Linked DNA regions of Homo sapiens. Each later gene encodes a partner of the first gene's protein in a complex. Each region holds a gene or a part of one and is shown on either strand. Other genes may lie near its edges. The genes, in order: ODAD4 and ODAD1.

Region 1 (7,321 bases):
TCAGGTGTTTGAGACCAGCCTGGCTAACATGGTGAAACCCTGTTTCTACTAAAAATACAAAAAATCAACCGGACGTGGTGGCGAGTGCCTGTAATCCCAGCTACTCCGGAGGCTGAGGCAGGAGAATTGCTTGAACCCGGGAGGCGGAGGTTGCAGTGAGCCGAGATCGTGCCATTGCACTCCAGCTTTGGCAACAAGAGCAAAACGCCATCTCAAAAAAAAAAAATTAGCCAGGTGTGGTGGCGGGCACCCGTAGTCCCAGGTACTCGGGAGGCTGAAGCAGGAGAATTGCTTCAACCCGGGACTCGGAGATTGCAGTGAGCAGAGATCGTGCCACTGCACTCCAGCCTGGGTGACAGTGTGAGACTCTGTCTCAAAAAAGAAAAAGGGGGGTGGGTACAGTTAGATGCCTCAGGAAGGACAGTACACCACAGACTATGGTAATCATCTCACACAGAAAAGAGGACACTGGGAGTGGGGATATTGCCCTCAACCCCACTTTAGGGTCAAAATCAGTTTCATTTTCCTAGCATTTTCTTTTTTTTTTTTCTTTCTTGTTTTTCATTTTTCTTTTCCCTTTCTTTCTTTTTTCTTTCTTTCTTTTTTTTTTTTTTTTTTTTTGAGACAGCGTCTCACTCCATCACCCAGGCTGGAGTGCAGTGGCATGATCTCAGTTCACTGCAACCTCTGCCTCCCAGGTTCAAGCGATTTTCTTGCCTTAGACTCCCGAGTAGCTGGGATTACAGGTGCTTACCACCATGTCTGGCTAATTTTTGTATTTTTAGTAGAAATGGGTTTCACCACGTTGGCCAGGCTGGTCTCAAACTCCTGACTTCAAGTGACCCACCCACCTTGGTCTCCCAAAGTTCTGGGATTACAGGTGTGAGCCACTGCACCCGGCCTCTTTTTGTTTTGTTTTGTTTTGTTTTTTGAGACAGAGTCTCATTCTGTCACCCAGGCTGGAGTGCAGTGGTGTGATCATGGCTTATGCAGCCTCGACCTCTCCAGGTTCAAGCAATCCTCCCATCTCAGCCTCCTGAGTAGCTGGGACTACAATCATGGACCACCACGCCCAGCTAATTTTTTTGTATTTCGTAGAGACAGGGTTTTGCCATGTTGCCCAGGCTGGTCTCAAACTCTTGGGCTCAAGCGTTCCGCCCACCTCGACCTGCCAAAGTGCTGGGATTACAGGTGTGAGCCACCACTCCCAGCCTTTTCCTGGTATTTTCATCTTAATCCCCGGATATAGTGATTAGTTCTTGATTAGCTACATAAAAAGAGAAGGCTACTGGAATGGTTAAGCCACATGGCAGATTGTCCTCAAGTCCACTTCAGAATGCTTAGCCTTTGAAATTTGCTTTGAGTATGATGTGTTGCCATTTCAGGTTTGTAGTTGAGTTTGGTGTGCACAAAATACCCTACAGTTCTATTGCCTGAGGGGACTGAGGGGCTCTCAGACATTGGTGGAAAGTCAGCGTATCCACAGAGCAGCATATTCCTACTCTTCAGCCAGTGGCTTCCACAATAGCCATGATTTGACCTTGTTCAAGGTGAGCCATATGCAGATAATCAAGTTGACTGAGCGCAGATCGGAGTTGTTCTGCTTAGGAGCCAGAGGCCTGTGTGCTGGCCTGAAGAATCCCCTTGATTCTTCAGAGCCTTGATTTCTTCAGAGCCTGAAGAAATCCCCTCTGCAGGAGGGTTTGGGCTGCCCTTCCCACTCCAGCTTCTACCTTGCTCTTCATGCTGGCTGTCAACCTGACTGGTTTCTTTGTCAGGCTCTTTACCTTCAGGATGGAGACAAGAACTGCCTGGTTGCTCGCTCAAAGTGCTTCCTGAAGATGGGAGACTTGGAGAGATCCCTGAAGGATGCTGAGGCTTCGCTCCAGAGTGACCCAGCTTTCTGTAAGGTGACTGCATGGGCGGGAGGACTGGATCCTGCCATTGCCTGTAGCAACTTCTGGTTACAAGTAGTTGTTACAAGTAGAACCAGCCAGACTGCCTAGTGTTTGATGCCATTTTCTCTTCCTAGGTCATTGCCTAAGTCCCTGCCCCCTGTATTCCAACCTTGACCTTCAACCCAGGACCCTTCTGTTCCACCACATGTGAGTCCTATAAGGCCTTATCTGTTCACATTGATTTGATTTCCTCCCATTCCAGGGGATTTTGCAAAAGGCTGAGACACTGTACACCATGGGAGACTTTGAGTTTGCCTTGGTATTCTATCATCGAGGCTACAAGCTGAGGCCTGATCGGGAATTCAGAGTTGGCATTCAGAAAGCCCAGGAAGCCATCAACAACTCAGTGGGAAGTGAGTGACCACAGGGCCTATGCCCTTATCCAGGAAGGTCCTTGGAATCCTTAGGTTTAGAGGAAGGTTGAGTCACAGCAGGTGAGCAGCCACCACCAGGCCCGCAGGGAGTCCTACACCTGGATTTGGCTGCTGCAGTGTTGTTGAGGATTAGCCGGGCATGGTGGCGGGCACCACCTGTCTGCTGGGAGGACCATTCCCTGATGCACACACTGATCTCTGAGCGCTGCAGCCTTGGGTTTTCCTAAAGGTCAGATTAGAAGGGCTGTTTCAAAGTAGGCCTGTCTTTAGCCTGGTGTCAAAAGCTATAATGCGGTCCTGAGCCCAGCCTTCTATAGTCCCTGGCTTCTTTCCTCACCAGACGCATACCAAGGGCTGGCCTTAGCCATCAGCATTATGGCAGGGGGAGAAGGGAAGCAAGTGAGAGCAAGTGAGAGCTTGCTCTGTCGGTGGCAAGGCCTGGAAATGGACAGTTTCCCCTGCATCCTTGGCCTCCCTTTGTTTGGAAATCTGGCTGCCATAGCCTTGGGCTAGCGGGGGCTGTTAGCTCCTAGGAGTTATACCAAACAGCCTGCACCATTTGCCTGCTAGGCTGGCTTAGGGCCAGCTTTGCCACAGCCTCCACCATCCCCCTGCCAAAGGCAGCCATTTCTACATAAAAATATGTGATAAGTCATGCCTGGGGGGTCTGGCCGACCTGAGCTCCAGCTTCTTTCCTTGCAGGTCCTTCTTCCATTAAGCTGGAGAACAAAGGGGACCTCTCCTTCTTAAGCAAGCAGGCTGAGGTAAGGGCCCTGGTTCTGTGGTTGTATCCCTCCAAGGGAAGAGGCTATGTGTGCCTGAGAAGGGGTCTTGGGAGTCTAGCTGCAACCTGACCAGGCATACTCCGTGACTCTTGGCCCACAGAAAGGTCCTGGAGTTGGAGGAATCTGGGATCACAGACCCTAGGGCCATGGCTGGGTACACTCTGCTCCTTGCTGAAGCTCTGTTGGGTGTTGCTCCATTTTCTCAGAATATAAAAGCCCAGCAGAAGCCTCAGCCCATGAAACACCTCTTACACCCCACCAAGGGAGAGCCCAAGTGGAAGGCCTCGCTCAAGAGTGAGAAGACTGTCCGCCAGCTTCTGGGGGAGCTCTACGTGGACAAAGAGTATTTGGAGAAGCTCCTATTGGATGAAGGTTTCGGACACTTTGTTGGCACGGGGCCTTGGGGGAAAGGAAATCTGGGTGGATGCTTCATGCATGAGCTGAAGGCAGAACCTGTCATATAATATTAGCTGACGTGTACCTGTGGACAGGTTTTATTAGCATTCTCATTTTACAGATGAGGAAACTGAGGCGCAGACCAACAGAAACTAAGGTCATATATAGGTAGGCAATGACATGGCTTATATTCGAATCCAGGAAGTCCAATTTTAGAGCAATGCTCCTAAGTGCTATGGTACCCTGGGAGGGAACAACAGAGATTTGGTCTCCTTTACCACCATAGTCCCTGAAGGGACATCCCCTTTGCCTTCAATCCTTACAATGGGCAAAGGAATCCAGCGGATATGTGCTTAAATCCGAGGATATTAGTTCTAGAATGCTCTGAAACATCATCTGGTCCAAGTTCTCCTTTTGTAGATAAGGAAATAGAGACCCTGATTGGGAAGGAACTTTCATAAGTTGACAAACAAGTTCATGGTGGAGTCAACATCAGAACCCAGGCCTCTGACCTCCAGTCCAGTGCTCTTTCTTTTAAAGACAGAGTCTTGCTCTGTCACACAGGCTGGAGTGCAGTGAAGCAAATTCGGCTCACTGCCACCTCCACCTCCTGGGTTAAAGCGATTCTCCTGCCTCAGCCTCCCTAGTAGCTAGGACTATAGGCGCCCACAACCACATCCGGCTAATTTTTTGTATTTTTAGCAGAGATGGGGTTTCACCATGTTGGCCAGGCTGGTTTTGAACTCCTGACCTCAAGTGATCTGCCCACCTCGGCCTCCCAAAGTGCTGGGATTACAGGTGTGAGCCACTACACCTGGCCAGTCCAGTGCTCTTTCCACCACACTGCTGCCAGTGACAGGATGAAGGACAGAAGCCTGAGATGAATGTCCCACATCAACATGGGGATGGGAGTATTGCCATTAGCTGATAAGCCTGAGCAGGGTCACCTGTGAATCAAATGCCTCTTCTCCAGAATTGGCTTCCCAAGGTCATGTGTAGGGTTCCCTGTTCTGTGACACAGGAACAGCTTCACTGCTGGCACATCTCCTTAGCAACAGGCCTGAATGCCTCCTATTCTCCAGAGGACCCGCTGCGGAGGGAAGAGGTGGCTTGAATATTACCTCAAGTGGCCTTGTAGCTTTGCTTCTGGCTGTAACCTCTGGCCAGGCAGTGGGCAGGACTTGGGCACCCGCCTTCCAGCTTCCAGCATGCACAGGCCCACTGGGCACCTGGGAAATCACTGGGCACTGGCAGCCTGGGCCAGATCGTGCATTTAGACTCAGTGTTATCTGAGGACACAGCTTGAACTGGGGAAGCCCCGAGGCTTCTCAGCGAGCCATCCACCAGCTGCCCCTTCTGGCTAGCTCCTCATATCTTGCCATAAGGGGCCCATAGCATGGAACTCCCTGATAGTGGGGCTCTGGCTGCCTCCTGGCCTGGATAAACCCACTCTGCCACTATGCGCACTCACACTCCTCTCTGTTTCAACAACTCCAAGCAGAGCAAGTTCACAGAGGGCCCTGCAGCGGCCACCGGGAGGAAACAGGAGGCAAATCCCTTAGAGGCCTGTTCTCCTTGGCGCCTCCTCACACCCCTTCCCCACAGACCTGATCAAAGGCACCATGAAGGGCGGCCTGACTGTGGAGGACCTCATCATGACGGGCATCAACTACCTGGATACTCACAGCAACTTCTGGAGGCAGCAGAAGCCGATCTACGCCAGGGAGCGGGACCGGAAGCTGATGCAAGAGAAATGGCTGCGGGACCACAAACGCCGTCCCTCACAGACAGCCCATTACATCCTCAAGAGCCTGGAGGACATTGATATGTGTAGGTGTTGTTCTCAGAGGGTGGGGCAGGTGCCTCCAGTGCCTTATCAGGTGGGGAAGGAGCAACCAGGTGTCTGAGCCCCTGGTCTCTCAGACCTGCAGATGGTGTCTGCAGGAAGAGGAGTTACCCTGTCAGCTAAGAGGAGGCTGCCCTGGCCTCCACAGCACCCCTTTCCTTTCTCAGTGCTCACAAGTGGCAGTGCTGAAGGGAGTCTTCAGAAAGCTGAGAAAGTGCTGAAGAAGGTACTGGAATGGAACAAGGAAGAGGTACCCAACAAGGATGAACTGGTTGGAAACTTGTATAGCTGCATAGGGAATGCCCAGATTGAGCTGGGGCAGATGGAGGCAGCCCTGCAGAGCCACAGAAAGGACCTGGAGATCGCCAAGGAATAGTGAGTGCCCTAGGGGAGGCCACTGGCGTGAGCCTACGGAGAAGGACACCTGGGGCTATCTGAGGCCCTTGCCAGGGCTGCTGGTGGCTTGACTCCCATTTTCTGCTCTGCATGCCTGAGGTAGATTCTCCTGGAGGTGGGGACCACCTGCCCAGGACTGAGGGTGGGGGCACCTAGACTGTTAGCTTTTTTGCCACCAAAAGGGTAGTGGCTCAAAATTCCAAAAAGCTACCCAATGATCTGGCTCTTAGGGATGTTTATATTCTTACATCAGCTTAACGAGCATGCATGAAGCCCCAGACATGCCAGATGCTGCTAGTGTGGGAACACAGTAATAACCAGACACAAGGGCCATTTCCCTGCAGATGTCAAGCAAAAAGGGACATAGCTAATTAATTGCAATTGTGATAAGTGCCATGAAAGAAAAGTACAGGATCCAGTGTGGTGAGAAATACATTCCAGGAGGACTTGATGACATTGGGGAACACACAGGGCCTATGGAAAGGCCCTGAGACAGGAGGGTACTTAAGCCTGGAGAGCACAGCATATTGCCAGGGAGAGGGGCCAAGAGGAGGCTGAAGGAAGTGGGCAGGGGATGGATCAAGCAGGGTCTTTTAAAACCGGTGCTGATCAAGAGCACGGGCTGTGGAGTCAGGCAGACCTAGGCTGTGGAACTTGCACCGCCCAGCCGTGGAACCTGAGATAAGCCACTTTAGCTCCCTCAGCCTCAGGGTCTCCTCCTGTTAGCTGGGCACCCTGTAGGGCAGAAGGGAGGATGAAATACAGAAGTACCTGTGCAGACCTTAGGACAGTGCCTGGTATCCACAATAGTAGTAACACCAGCTCTCCAGAAATGAGATCTTCTCAAGACTTGCTGACTTCCACCCGGAGGTTCCATCGCTTTCTCAGCATCCTGGTTCTACCCTTTGGAGTCATTCTTGACTTCCTCCTGCCTGGTTTCTACCCATCTCACCAGTCTGAGCCTCCTTGATCTCCCATCATCCCATTTGCCCTCACAGTGCCCAGCCCTCAGCCGACCTGAGTCCTGCTGCTTCCCCTGCCTCTGCTGTCTCTCTCCAGCTCCTCCCACAAATCTCCAGAGACACATGCTATGAACTCTCCCTCCCCTGCTCACAAGTGGGCCTGGGCCCCTCACTGCCTGCAGGTTAAAGGTCAAGCCCCTTTGCTTGGCCCTCAGGCCCTCTCTAAACCCACCCTGGCCCTCTTATAGCAATCTTCCCTTGGGGTCAAACGTTCCTGAACATTCCTGCCTCCTGCCCTTTCCTCTTCACTGATCCAAGCCCCATATGCTTTCCATTCCCAGTTCATTTCTCGCCTGCCTCCACTGTGCTGAGCAGGAATATCCCATACTGGCCATCCCATATTAGAAAAAAATAGCTTTAGGGACAGACCTGTCTTCGATCCCTGTCTTCTAACTGGCTCTGCCACTTAGAAGCTGTGTGGATTTGATTAAGTTGCTCCTCTACTCAGTTTCCTCATCTCTAATGAAGGCATAATAATACCAACCCACAGGGACTGTGGGGATTAGATGTGATGTATATATATGGTACCTTGGATCCAACCATC
Region 2 (7,321 bases), on another chromosome or scaffold:
TCTGGGGTGACAGGGACAGCAGATGTTTGCCATGCTTAGTGACTCATTTTCCCTGGGCCATTCAATCTCTCCCACATTCAGGCAACCAAAAACAGGTACCATCCTCTTTCTTGTAGATCCAGGAGTGGGAGACGCGGATCTTTACCCACAGTAAGAATGTCAGGTCCCCGGGATTCATCCTGGATCAGAAGGTCAAGATCAGGCGAAGGATCAGGATCCTAGAAAACCAGTTGGACAGGGTGAGGGTCAAACTCCTGGTCCCTCGACCTGAATTGTGCGGTTATGGGAAGAACTGGGCATGGTCATTGGATTCTGGAAATGCTGGGCAGTGTGTGCACATATGTGTCAGGACACAGGATTCTGGAGGGATGGAGGTTCCCAAGGAAAGGAGAATGATGGGTCCTTAGAGGGGAGTGGACATTGATTTCGGGAACCCCAAAGAACCTCTGTTTCTCAGGAAACAGGCCGGCCCAACCTCTGATAAGTGTCTCCTCCTTGGCTGAGCTTGGAGGAGGCAGGCAGACTTGGCTTCAGACCCACTCTTCCATCCACCTTTCTACTCCCAGGTCACCTGTCACTTTGACAACCAGCTGGTACGGAATGCGGCCCTGCGGGAGGAGCTGGATCTGCTGCGGATCGACAGGAACCGCTATCTGAACGTGGACCGCAAGCTGAAGAAGGTCAGTGGCCCTGAAATCCAGGGGAGGAGACAGGGACCCCTGCGCAGGTCCTCCCCACAGCTGTTTGCCCTTCCTGCTCTAGCACTCAGGCCTCAAGTATGGGATTGACTAGAGCGGTAGGCTTGCTTTAGTCCAAAAGGCATGGAGGCCTGGGAAATGTTGGAGGACATTTCCAACAAAAAAGTGGCCTCATTTATAGTTGTAGAAAGCAGAATGTCATTCTGAATAGTATCACCCAGGGCAATCTATGAGCAAGCAAGACCATTTATTATACATTCCACGGGGATCTTTGAAGAACCAGCCCTGTCCCCTCTCTTTTGACTTTCTTTCTTTCTTTGTTTTGAGATGAGTCTCACTCTGTCGTCCAGGCTGGAGCACAGTGAAGTGATCTTGGCTCACTACAGCCTGTGCCTCCCAGATTCAAGCAATTCTCCTGTATCAGCCTCCCGAGTAGCTGGGACTACAGGGGCCTGCCACCACGCCCAGCTAATTTTTTGTATTTTTAGTAGAGATGGGGTTTCACTGTGTTAGCCAGGATGGTCTCGATCTCCTGACCTCGTGATCCGCCTTCCTCGGCCTCCCAAAGTGCTGGGATTACAGGCGTGAGCCACCACACCCGGCCGATTTTTTTTTTTTTAAGTAGGGACAGGGTTTCACCATGTTGCCCAGGCTAGTCTTGAATTCCTGAGCTCAGGCAATTCGCCTGCCTCGGCCTCCCAAAGTGCTGGGATTAGAGGCGTGAGCCACTGCGTCCGGTCTTGACTTTCATTTGGAAATAATTTCAAATTACAGAAAAAGGTGCAAGAATTATACAAAGAACTCCTATATATCTTTCACCCAGTTTGATAATTTGCCACATTTATTTTCTCTTTCTCCCCCACTCTTACTATTGGTGTGTGTAATTATTGTTTTGCTGAGAATAATTTATTATCCTGAATGCTGAACTGTTTGACAATATGTTGTAGACATTATGCTCCTAAGTACTTGAGAGAGCATTTCCTAAGAACAACGCCATTTCCTTACATAAACACAGTGCTGTTATCCAAGTCAGGGAGGTTAACATTGTTAGAATTCTAAACCGTCCATATGTCAAGGTCACTGATTGTCCCAGTGATGTCCTTTACAGTGAACTTGATTTTCCTACTCTAGGCTCCGGTCCAGAATCTCACGTTGCATTTGGTTGTTCTGGCTCTGTTCATCTGGGTCAGTCCCTTGGGCTTTTTTTTCTCCATGACGTTGACATTTTGGAAGCATCCAGGCCGTTTGTGTTGTGCGATGTCCCCTGACATGGGTTTATCTGGTCTTTTTTTTCTTTTTTGATACTAAGTTTCACTCTTGTTGCCCAGGCTGGAGTGTAATGGCGTGATCTTGGCTCGCTGCAACCTCCACCTCCCGGGTTCAAGTGATTCTCCTGCCTCAGCCTCCTGAGTAGCTGGGATTACAGGCATGCACCACCATGCCCGGCTAATTTTGTATTTTTAGTAGAGACAGGGTTTCTCCATGTTGGTCAGGCTGATCTCAAACTCCTGACCTAAGGTGTTCCACCCGCCTCAGCCTCCCAAAGTTCTGGGATTACAGGCATGAGCCACCACGCCCGGCCGGTTTATCTGATCTTTCTTCATGATTAGACTTGGCATCTGCACTTTGGGGGGAATGTCACAGCAGTGATAGTGTGTCCTTCCTGTGCAAGATCTCAGGAGGCACCTGATGTCAACTTGTCCCATGACTAGTGATGTTGTCTTTGATCACTTGGCTAGCCAGGAAGAGTTTTCCTTTTTGTAGTGAATAAGTGGTCTGTGGGGAGATTCTCTGAGACTGTGTAAATATCTTGTCCCCTGACACACCTTCACTCAATCATTTTGTTACGGGATATTTACGGCGTCACTTTTCTGGCTGGAAACCTCCTTGGCCAGTGGTGCCTTTGCCCGAGTTCTTGTACTGTGTCCAGGAAGAAGGAGGTAGGCAGACAAGTGGAGCGTGAGCAAGATGAAGAGGAGCTTTACCGAGTGTTAGGACAGCTCAGAGGAGACCTGCAGGGGGCAGCTCCTCTGCAGGCAGGTCGTCTCGTCCAGTGTTCAGCTATCAGCAGTGAGGAGGCCCTGGAGAGGGTGGTTCCTCTCCGCAGGCAGATTGTTCAGATGTCTCTGCAGGCCTCTGAAGCTCTCAGCAGAGAGGGTAGCTCCATGGGTGGCCATGGGCAGGCCTGGAGGAGACGTTGCAAGTCCCCACTCATTTTGCAGTACTGGCAACCTGGCCCCCAGCCTTCAGGCCCTCCCTGGCTTGAAGGAGGGACCTTACCGGGTACTTGCCCTCTTCTGCCCAGGAATCTGCCTGCCTCCTGCTGCCATTCATGGCACTGGGCTGGACCCCAACCCCTCTCTGAGATCAGAGTGGGTGTGAGAGAGGAGAGAGGCCAAGCAGCAGGAGCAGACACGCTCGAGCCTGCAGGGATCGGGGTGGGGAGGGGGGTGCGGTGGTGCTTTCCTGGGCCGTTCAGGGTACAGGCTGCAGAGAACTTCAGAGATGCCTAGGTCCTGTGGTTGGGAGGGTGGCTGCAGCTGCACTCTGGGAGCTCCCACCCCACCAACTCGGAAGGGGCAGGACCCTCGCTTGTCCCCGGCTGCTGCCTGCTCCCTGGAGTGGGAGGCCCGGGTCTGTAGCTGCGGGTTGGGCAGCTGCAGCTGCACCCGGGAGGGCAGATCCTGCCTGCTCCTGGCTCCCTGCAAGAGCACAGAGAGGCTCAGATCCACAGCAGCAGTTTGGGCAGCTGTAGTCCCGCCCAGGAGGGCGGGGATCCTGCCTGCTCTGTGGAGCAGAAGGCCTGGGTCTGCAGCTGTGGTTCTGGTGGCTGCAGCTGCACACGGGGAGCTCCCATCCCAACTCAGAAGGGTCAGGGCTCCTACCGGCTCCATGGAGTGTGCAGCCACAGCCAGCAGCTACTGCCATCAATTTTATCATCCATGAATGATTCTTCCCTGAATGGTTATTACTGTAATGGCTGCAACAGGGTAATTTAAAAGACTCTGTCATTTCTCCCACATTTATAAGATCGCATTTTCCTTAAGGAAACACTTCTCGGCTGGGTGTGGTGGCTCATGCCTGTAATTCCAGCACTTTGGGAGGCTGAGGCAGGCGGATCACCTGAGGTCAGGAGTTCGAGACCAGCCTGGCTAACATGGTGAAACCCCGTTTCTACTAAAAATACAAAAAATTAGCCAGGTGTGGTGGTGCACGCCTGTAATCCCAGCTACTTGGGAGGCTGAGGCAGGAGAATCACTTGAACCAGGGAGCTGGAGGCTGCAGTGAGCCAAGATTGTGCCATTGCACTCCAGCCTGGGCAACAAGAGTGAAACTCTGTCTCAAAAAAAAAAAAAGCAAAAAGGAAACACTTCTCTTTCTCCCCCTGTATATTTGAGTGTTGTCAGTGAGCATTAGTGTATTCTGACTTTATAGATGATGATCCGTAACTGCCATTCATTTTAATATTCAAATTGCCCCAGATTTGGTTAGTGGGAGCCCCTTCAAGCTGGCTTCTGTGGCCTTTGGACATACCCCATCACTTTTTGGGAGTACTTCCTCACTTTCTGGCACACGAAGATAGTCTGGGTAATCTGGACCTTGTTCTGCCCCATCCCTGGGGTTGGCCATTTTTCTGAGGAGTCCCGGTTCTTTCTAGGGAAGAGTAGGTGTTGAGGCACTAAGAGACCGTTTTCTTTTTTTTTTTTTTTTTGAGACGGAGTCTCGCTTTGTCACCCAGGCTAAAGTGCTGGAGTGCAGTGGCATGATCTCGGCTCACTGCAAGCTCCGCCTCCCAGGTTCACGCCGTTCTCCTGCCTCAGCCTCCCGAGTAGCTGGGACTACAGGCACCTGCCACCACGCCCGGCTAATTTTTTGTATTTTTAGTAGAGACGGGGTTTTGCCGTGTTAGCCAGGATGGTCTCGATCTCCTGACCTCGTGATCCGCCCACCTCGGCCTCCCACAGTGCTGGGATTACAGGCGTGAACCACCAGCCTGGCACTAAGAGACTCTGTTGCTACTTGGGTGTCATTGCTTTGAGGCCCTTCCTCTGGAGAGAGCTAGGAAGCACACATATTTTATATGTTTTAAAATTCTATTTATGTTTTGTAGAGATGGGGTCTTACTATGTTGTCCAGGCTGCTCTCAAACTCTTGGGCTCAGGTGATTCTCCTGCCTTGGCCTCACAAAGTATTGGGATTACAGGCATGAGCCACTGCGCCTGGCTGACATATTTTACAATAGTGAGTTCACATTGATACCTCTGATTCCATTCCAATATCACCAGCTTTTTCCTGAGCATTCCTCATTTCATCTTTCTTTCTTTCTTTCTTTCTTTTTTTTTTTCTTTTGAGATGGAGTCTCACTCTTGTTGCCCAGGCTAGGGTGCAATGGCACGATCTCGGCTCACCACAACCTCCGCCTCCCGGATTCAAGCTATTCTTCTGCCTCATTGTCCCAAGTAGCTGGGATTACAGGCATGCACCACCACGCCTGGTTAATTTTTTGTATTTTTAGTAGAGACAGGGTTTCTCCATGTTGGTCAGGCTGGTCTCAAACTCCCGACCTCAGGTGATCCTCCCGTCTTGGCCTCCCAAAGTGCTGGGATTACAGTCGTGAGCCACCGCGCCTGGCCCTAATTTTGTATTTTTAATAGAGATGGAGTTTCTCTATGTTGGCCAGGCTGGTCTCGAACTCCCAAGCTCAGGTGATCTGCCCGCCTCGTCCTCCCAAACTGCTGGGATTATGGGCCTGAGCCACCGCACCTGGCCCTATTATTATTTTTAAATAAAGTTCACTTGCTTCCATTTGCATTCAGTTTTAGTTTTCTCTCCTCTCTTTATTGATTTAATTTCCTTTATGAATATGTAAAACATTAACAAGGTTCTCAAATCAAACTATTCCAAAAGGTCTCCTAGGGAAACGTCATTTCCTCTCCATCTCCTCCACCTCATTTCCACCCAGTCCCCGTAGGTTACTAAATATTTTCTTAGTTTCTGCTTATCTACAGAAAGAGCCTTTTGATCCAGCTTATCAATTTGACTTCACACCTCTTTAAAATCCCTTTCATGGGCAGTCGCTAATGAGGAGGGTCCACATTTGGAAGGCTCAAGAGCTTTACTCCTTATTGGAGAAGCACGGGGCCAAAAGGAAAGACTTCGAGCAATGGGGTTGTAAGAAGTGGCACTGATTTTTTTCTCCTCCCCCCACAGGAGATCCACCACCTGCATCACCTGGTCAGCACCCTTATCCTCTCCTCCACCTCTGCCTACGCCGTCAGGTAGAGACTGCGGGTATCCTGGGATGGCGGGACCCAGATGACTCAGGACGCACCTTTCCATAAGGCAGTGATGGGAAGGTTCAGGACTCATGAAACACGTCAGAACCTATTTTTTCTCCCATAATATCCCCTTTTTCTCTCTCCCCGCCACCAGTTCCCCACCTCCACTGGCAAGGTCCTGTTCTGTCTTTTTTTTTGAGACAGAGTCTGGCTCTGTCGCCCAGGCTACAGTGCAGTTGCGCTATCTTGGCTCACTGCAACCTCTACCTCCCAGGTTCAAACAATTCTCCTGCCTCAGCCTCCCGAGTAGCTGGGATTACAGGTGCCCGGCACCGTGGCTGGCTAATTTTTGTATTTTTAGTAGAGATGGGGTTTCACCATCTTGACCAGGCTGGTCTTGAACTCCTGAGCTCATGATCTACCCGCCTCTGCCTCCCAAAGTGCTGGGATTACAGGCATGAGCCATTGCACCCCACCGGCCCTGTTCTTTTTCTTGGGCATGTAAATTAACCTCTACTGACCCCATCTAGCACATAAGAATGTATCTACTGGCTGGGCGAGGTGGCTCACGCCTGTAATCCCAACACTTTGGGAGGCCAAGGCAGGCAGATTGCTTGAGCTCAGGAGTTCGAGACCAGCCTGGCCAACATGGTGAAATCCCATCTCTACCAAAAATATAAAAACTTAGCTGGGCATGGTGGCGGGTGTCTGTGGTCCCAGCTACTTGGGAGGCTGAGGTGGGAGGATTGCTTGAGCCCTGGGGGCGGAGGTTGCAGTGAGCCGAGATTGCACCACTGCATTCCAGCCTGGGCAACAGAGTGAGACTCCGTCTCAGGAGAAAAAAAAAAAAAAAGCGCATCTAGCACATATATAGTGCAGCAGGGTTCCTGGAAGCATCTGGCGAATTTGTTATTCGTCAGCATTGGTTGCAAGGGACAGAGATCCTCTCGGGCCACCTTCAGATAGAGGCACACTGTAAGGAGTTGAGGAGCTGAAGCTGCTTTAGGTGTTGGCTTCTCTCTCCCTCTCTGGGGCTCTCATGAGCTCCATGCTCTCTCTCTCACTCCATCCCTGTCTCTTTCTCAGCTTCGCCCTCTTCTTTTGCTCCAAATGCTTTCTTACCTTCTACTAAGTTCTTCTCTGGCTTCTGTTTTCTCATGGTCCCTGATCGACATCAGCTGTGGCCTGGGTCGGCCTTAGGGTCTCTGTGATTTCTCTCTTTCTCTCTCTCTGTTAAAACAAACGTGGCAAAATTCACCATTTTAAAGCGTAGAATGTAGCAGCATTTAGTACATTCACGGGGCCGTGCAACCGCACCACTTCTGTCTAGATCTGAAATATTTC

What was found.
Region 2: ODAD4 (region 1) and ODAD1 share a complex: the UniProt entries of both Homo sapiens proteins name them as parts of the outer dynein arm-docking complex.

Annotation. Positions count from the first base shown.
Region 1 is NC_000017.11:41,933,439-41,940,759, forward strand, and holds part of ODAD4 (outer dynein arm-docking complex subunit 4), read left to right. Parts: intron 1-1,778; coding exon 1,779-1,910; intron 1,911-2,032; exon of another isoform or gene 2,033-2,105; intron 2,106-2,160; coding exon 2,161-2,311; intron 2,312-3,034; coding exon 3,035-3,096; intron 3,097-3,323; coding exon 3,324-3,489; intron 3,490-5,118; coding exon 5,119-5,343; intron 5,344-5,526; coding exon 5,527-5,734; intron 5,735-7,321. UniProt on the Homo sapiens protein: Component of the outer dynein arm-docking complex (ODA-DC) that mediates outer dynein arms (ODA) binding onto the doublet microtubule. Plays an essential role for the assembly of ODA-DC and for the docking of ODA in ciliary axoneme.
Region 2 is NC_000019.10:48,304,912-48,312,232, reverse strand, and holds part of ODAD1 (outer dynein arm-docking complex subunit 1), read left to right. Parts: intron 1-116; coding exon 117-239; intron 240-566; coding exon 567-680; intron 681-5,909; coding exon 5,910-5,977; intron 5,978-7,321. UniProt on the Homo sapiens protein: Component of the outer dynein arm-docking complex (ODA-DC) that mediates outer dynein arms (ODA) binding onto the doublet microtubule. Involved in mediating assembly of both ODAs and their axonemal docking complex onto ciliary microtubules.